Regions from separate parts of the Homo sapiens genome. Here region 1 is linked to region 2. The links come from fine-mapping of genetic effects on gene expression. A gene starts in region 2. The other region holds a variant in brackets. All regions are shown on one strand. Distances are from middle to middle. Region 1 has its middle 3.2 kb from the start of VILMIR. Region 2 holds the start of LRRC37B (leucine rich repeat containing 37B).

What was found. PIP is the estimated chance that this variant, and not a neighbour inherited with it, causes the effect.
Region 1: its variant is fine-mapped to the expression of LRRC37B in lymphoblastoid cells (GTEx, PIP above 0.99). The same link has a PIP of 0.9 or more in whole blood.

The regions. Positions count from the first base shown.
Region 1 is chr17:32,078,382-32,081,285 of GRCh38, forward strand. No RefSeq gene overlaps it. Among named protein-coding and RNA genes, the nearest start is that of VILMIR, 3.2 kb to the right of the region's middle. The variant C/T (reference allele first, on the strand shown) is at 1,526.
Region 2 is chr17:32,005,873-32,008,776 of GRCh38, forward strand. It overlaps LRRC37B (leucine rich repeat containing 37B), which reads left to right and starts at 1,511. Exons shown (of 15, transcript NM_001321350.2): 1 at 1,511-2,260. LOC124903972 reads right to left here and starts at 1,835. Exons shown (of 4, transcript XM_047437248.1): 1 at 1,504-1,835; 2 at 735-833. The coding sequence starts at 1,835. RefSeq lists an enhancer at 512-1,434 and silencers at 1,477-1,526, 1,567-1,916.

The sequences.
Region 1 (2,904 bases), 73 kb after region 2:
GTGAACCCTCAGGTAGGAGCCACCAGCCATTTTACTGCTGAGTTTAGCATTTGGGGTTGTTCAAGAGTTCAGGGCTTCTGGGAGACTAGAGAATGCCTTCATCTCCAGGGCACTAAAACCTCAGTTACCTAATCTGTGAAATGGGTATGATCATAGCAATCCCACAAAACTGCTGGTAGGGTTACATGTAATTATTTCTCCTTTTTTTCTTTTTTTAAGAGATGGGTTCTCCCTATGTATGTTGCCCAGGCTGGACTTGAACTCCTAGGCTCAAGTGATCCTCCCACCTTGGCCTTCCAATGTGCTGGGATCACAGTAAATTTTTTCTTGTAGAAACAGGGTCTCCCTGCTGGGCACGGTGGTTCACACCTGTAATTCCAGCACTTTGGGAGGCTGAGGCGGGTGGATCACCTGAGGTCAGGAGTTTGAGACCAGCCTGGCTGACACGGTGAAACCTTATCTCTACTAAAAATACAAAAAATTGGCCAGGCGCGGTGGCTCACGCCTGTAATCCCAGCACTTTGGGAGGCCAAGGTGGGTGGATCACGAGGTCAGGAGATGGAGACCATCCTGGCTAACATGGTGAAACCCCATCTCTACTAAAAATACAAAAAATTAGCCAGGCGTGGTGGCGGGCGCCTGTAGTCCCAGCTACTGGGGAGGCTGAGGCAGGAGAATGGTGTGAACCCGGGAGGCAGAGCTTGCAGTGAGCCGAGATCGTGCCACTGCACTCCAGCCTGGGCAACAGAGTGAGACTCTGTCTCAAAAAAAAAAAACAAAAAACAAAAGAAAACAAAAAATTAGCTGGGTGTGGTGGTGGGCACCTGTAATCTCAGCTACTCAGGAGGAGGAAAATCGCTTGAATCCGGGAAACAGAGGTTGCAGTGAGCCGAGATCACACCATTGCACTCCAGCCTGGGTAACAAGAGCAAAACTCTGTCTCAAAAAAATAATAATAATAAAATAACAATGGATTGGTTGAGAGATCACCGTATGCCAGAAGTTGCTTTAAGCATTTTGCATGTATTAATCCATTTTACACCTCACAATATCGCTACCAAGTAGAAACGATTATCTCGATTTTGTAAAAGGTGAAACAGGAAAAAACCACTAGAGCAGAGCTGGCAGACCCTCAACCTTCTTTTCCTTCTGACTCCAAATGACAGACAGCATTCTTTCCATCTCTCACCTCCTCATGCCTCCTGTGGAAAAAATGAATGAACAGATGAGAAAAGTTGGAGCTGGAGAAAGACCGTGTTCCTCGTGTTCTGTGAGACCTGGGAAGGCTGCTAAAACCCAGGGAGCAGGAGTTCTCCTCCCTCCATCCTTATCCACAGTCTGGGTCCCATCCAGACCCTCCTCTCCAAACCGGGGGTTTGCGACAAAGCAGGTGAGGGAGGCATTTCATTCCAGAGCAGAAGAAGGGGGTTCCTCCCCCATCCCACTCCCGTTTCATTTTTAAGGGGAAAAGCAGCTCCCCATACGGTGAGGCAATGAGGCGGACCAGCAGGTTCCTGGGGATCTC[C/T]GCAGCCCCGTTGCCATAACAACTGAACTCACTCGCAGCCTCTGATAGGGGAGTCAGCTGGAACCACAGCTTGGGCAGGAAACGGATGAGGGAGTAGGAAAGAAACTTCAAGATCAACCACTGGCCCTCACACCGAGCTGCGCACACCCCAAGGCCAAGTGAGGCTGGAAACCCTTGTTGTCCTTGGGAAATGGGGGAGGGCACTGGTACCCCTGGGACCTCCCTCCTGAATCTGGGCAGGTTTAAACATTTTTTTTCCAACTTTGGAAGACAGTTGTACAACCTCGAAGGAGAGGAGGTGTCAGGATTCACAAAGCGTATGGATCACACATGGCTCTAGGGGACATTCTCTTTGCTCTGTTTTATTTTTATTGTATATTTTATTCTTTTATTTTGCGATAGGGTCTTGCTCTATTGCCCAGGCTGGAGTCCAGTGGCATGACCACACCTTACTGCAGCCTCAAATTACTGGACTGAGGTGATCCTCCTGCCTCAGCCATGCGAGTAGCTGGGACTACAGACATGCACCACCACACCTGGCTAATTTTTAAAATATATATGTTTTTGTAGAGATAGGGTCCTGCTACATTGCCCAGGCTGGTCTCAAACTCCTGGCTTCAAGTGATCCTCCTGCTTTGGCCTCCCAAAGTGTTGGGATTATAGGCATGAGCCACTGCATCCAGCATCATTTCTTTTCATTATTATTATGATTATTATTTTGAGATGGAGTCTCGCTCTGTCACCCAGGCTGTAGTGGAGTGGTGTGACCTCGGCTCACTGCAACCTCCACCTCCCAGGTTCAAGTGATTCTCCTGCCTCAGCCTCCTGAGGAGTTGCGATTACAGGTACCCTCCACAATGCCTGGCTAATTTTTTTTTCTTTTTGAGACGGAGTTTTCCTCTGTGTCCCAGGCTGGAGTGCAATGGCGCGATCTCAGCTCACTGGAACCTCTGCTTCCCAGGTTCAAGCAATTCTTCTGCCTCAGCTTCCTGAGTAGCTGGGACTACAGGCAGGCACCCACCACACCTGACTAATTTTTGTATTTTTAGTAGAGACGGGGTTTCACCATATTGGCTGGTCTCAAACTCCTGACCTTATAATCCGCCCACCTCGGCCTCCAAAGTGCTGGGATTACAGGCGTAAGCCACCGTCCCTGGCCTAACCTGGCTAATTTTTATATTTTTAGTAGAAACGGGGCTTCACCATGTTTTCAAGGCAAGTCTCGAACTCATGACCTCAAGTGATCTGCTCACCTTGGCCTCCCAAAGTGCTGGGATTACAGGCGTGAGCCACTGCACCCAGCCTAATCTTTTTTTTTTTTTTTTTTTTTTTTAATGAAGACAAGGGCTCACTGCATCACCCAGGCTGGTCTCGAGCTC
Region 2 (2,904 bases):
AGCTGGGACCACAGGTGCGCACCACCATGCCCGGCTAATTTTTCAATTTTTTTCTAGAGACGAGGTCCTGCTATGTTGCCCAGGCTAGTCTCAAACTCTTGACCTCAAGCAATCGTCCGGCTTTGGCTTCTCAAAGGGCTGGGATTGCAGGCATGAGCTATCGCGCCCGGCCAAGTATTTTTGTTTAAATTACTTTTTGGTTGTCACTTATCTCAATAAATATTAACATATGTTTACGAAACCTTTCTTTTTCTTTTTTTTTTTTTTTTTTTTTTTTTTTTTTTGAGACGGAGTCTCGCTCTGTCTCCCAGGCTGGAGTGCAGTGGCGCGATCTCGGTTCACTGCAACCTCCGCCTCCCGGATTTTACGCCATTCTCCTGCCTCAGCCTCCCGAGTAGCTGGGACTACAGGCGTGCACCACCTACGCCCGGCTAATTTTTTTTGTATTTTTAGTAGAGATGGGGTTTCACTGTGCTAGCCAGGATGGTCTCGAACTCCTGACCTTGTGATCCGCCCGCCTCGGCCTCCCAAAGTGCTGGGATTACAGGCGTCAGCCACTGTGCCCGGCAAACCTTTCTCTTATCTGAAGAACTGACCTCAACCACTCAGGGTTGAGTCCCTGTGATAAGGTTTGAGGGTGCCTGAACTGTCACCATGATTCGTCCCCTGGGCTGAGCTCAAACCTAGTGATTTGTCAGGTAAATAAATTAAGGTTATTTCCCGATAATACAGACCTGTAACACCGTGAAGTAGGTTTTAGGCAGGATTCCCTCTTTTCCACTGCAAAGGAGAGGTAAGTTCTTGCTAAGGTGGTCAGGCTCCTAGCTGGGACACTGGGAAGGTGGCGGGAGATTGGAACATGCAGTAGTTGCATTCTGGAGTTTACTGAGGCTTTCCGAGTGGGGATCCCATGCAACAGGTCTTAGGGACCCCCCTCCCTCCAGGCGTGGCAGCCCGGGGTGTGGCTCCTGGCACAGATCCGGAGCAGTTGTCATCGGAGTCAATTCAGGACTCCACTTCCAAGCTTCGGAGTTTCCTAAATTCTGGGGGCTTGTCTCCCTGTACCCCACCCCGACTAATTTTCCTCGGTCGCTGGCGCTGCCCCGTCCCTTAGGTCGCTCGGGCCGCCCCCCTCCGCGACTTTTTTTTTCTTTCTCTCGCTGCCTCTTTCAGCCTCAGTTTCCCTAGAGGGCGGGAGGGGAACGATATTTGGGGGCTCTCCTGCCTTCCTCTCCGAGCCGCGGAAGGGGAGTCGCGGGAAGGAGACCCGGCAGGCTTTGGGCTCCAGCCAGGGGTCCGCGGAGACTGTGGTCTCCGAAGGCCTTAGACGCGGGGCTTGTCAGGAGCTGCGGGCCTCTTTCAGCCGCGCCACCCGCACCCGGAGCGCCGTGCTGCGCCAAGTCCAGGCGCCCCGAGCTCTCCGCCCCCGACTCAATGCTCCCGCGCTCCCCCTAGCGGCCGCCGCGCCACCTCGCCCCCTTCCCAGGCTGGGCGGCGGCGCACCTCACGTGACCGCGCTCCTGTAGAGGGAAGAAACAAGGTGGCGGTTGAAGGCGATCTTGAGTGGGGCCCCAGCAATTCGGTTGAGCCTTCTCCCTCCACTCGCTTCCGCCGGCCGGGCCCCTCCCGCCCAGCCCCTCGGGCCTCCCAACCCGGCCCCGGCGCTCCCCACCGCCGCCACTGCGCCCGGCCCTCCCCGTCAGCTTTCCCTTCTCCCGCCGCCTGGGCTCCAACAAGAGGGGCCGGCGGGGCAGGCCGACCAAGCAGCCCGCGGCTCCCGCTGCGGAGCGCTGCGCCCCGGCCCCGCCGCCGCCGCCGCCCACGTCCGGACCCATCGGGGGCTCCCCTCGCCGATACGCGGTAGTAGCCGGGGCAGGTGGGCAGCCGCCAGGCTGAGGTGGCGCCCAAGACGCGGCTGAGCTCGCCCAGGGTGGGCAGCAGTAGCCGGAGGAAGCCACCGCCGCCGGCCCGCCCCGCGCCGGCACCAGCGCACGGGCCCGGCGGGGGCGCGGGGGCAGCCACCTAGCCCGGACCACCGCAGCCCGGAGGGCTGTCAACAGAGTGGTGTATGATGACTACGAGAGCGAGGAGGAGGAGTAAGAGGAGGGGGGCGGCGATGCCGAGGAGACCCAGGAGTCTGAGGACAACTAGGAGGATGACATGGAGGAGGACGACGATGACTCCGATTATCCGGAGGAGCTGGAAGATGACGACGAGGACGCCAGTTACTCCACGGAAAGCAGCTTCAGCAGCACTCCAGGTACCCACCCAGCGCAGTTGCTGCAGACTCATTCCCCACCTCCTCTCCCCTCCCCCCTTGCTCACTTATGTGCTGTGCATCCCGCTCCGATCTCCCGCCAACCCCGCCGACCCCTAAACTTTAGAGGGGAAATGGGAGGGCACATCAAGTGGCAAAAAACTAGATTTATAAGAGGAAAGAAGCACATTGTTCAAAATGGAGATTGCATTGTTGCAGGCCGCACTCGCTTGCTCCCCGTCCCCCCAACTCCCTTTTTTTCTCCTCAAAATTTGTGCCAGTGCAGTGTCTCCACCGGGCAGGATTGAAACTTTGGCAAACACATATCCATTGCATTCATTTTTCTCCCCTTGTTTTGGTGTGGTTTTCTGGAATGAAAGAAGCCTCTTGTTTTGCAAACCTCTTTGCATTTCTAATGTGTTTCCTTTCGGATTTTCATTATATATCTGTTCCTTAAAAGGGAATTAAGGATTTGTACAGATTGTGGCACACAGACACACAGAAAAACATGCCTGTGTTCACACCCCTAGCTGTGGTTTTTAAATTGTGTTAAGGAAACGGATCATTTTGGTTAGTAGGGGAACTTTACCTGGTCCTGTGTGTTTGTTTTTATTCTTCGAGTGCTGACGGGCTAGTGCAACAGTTGC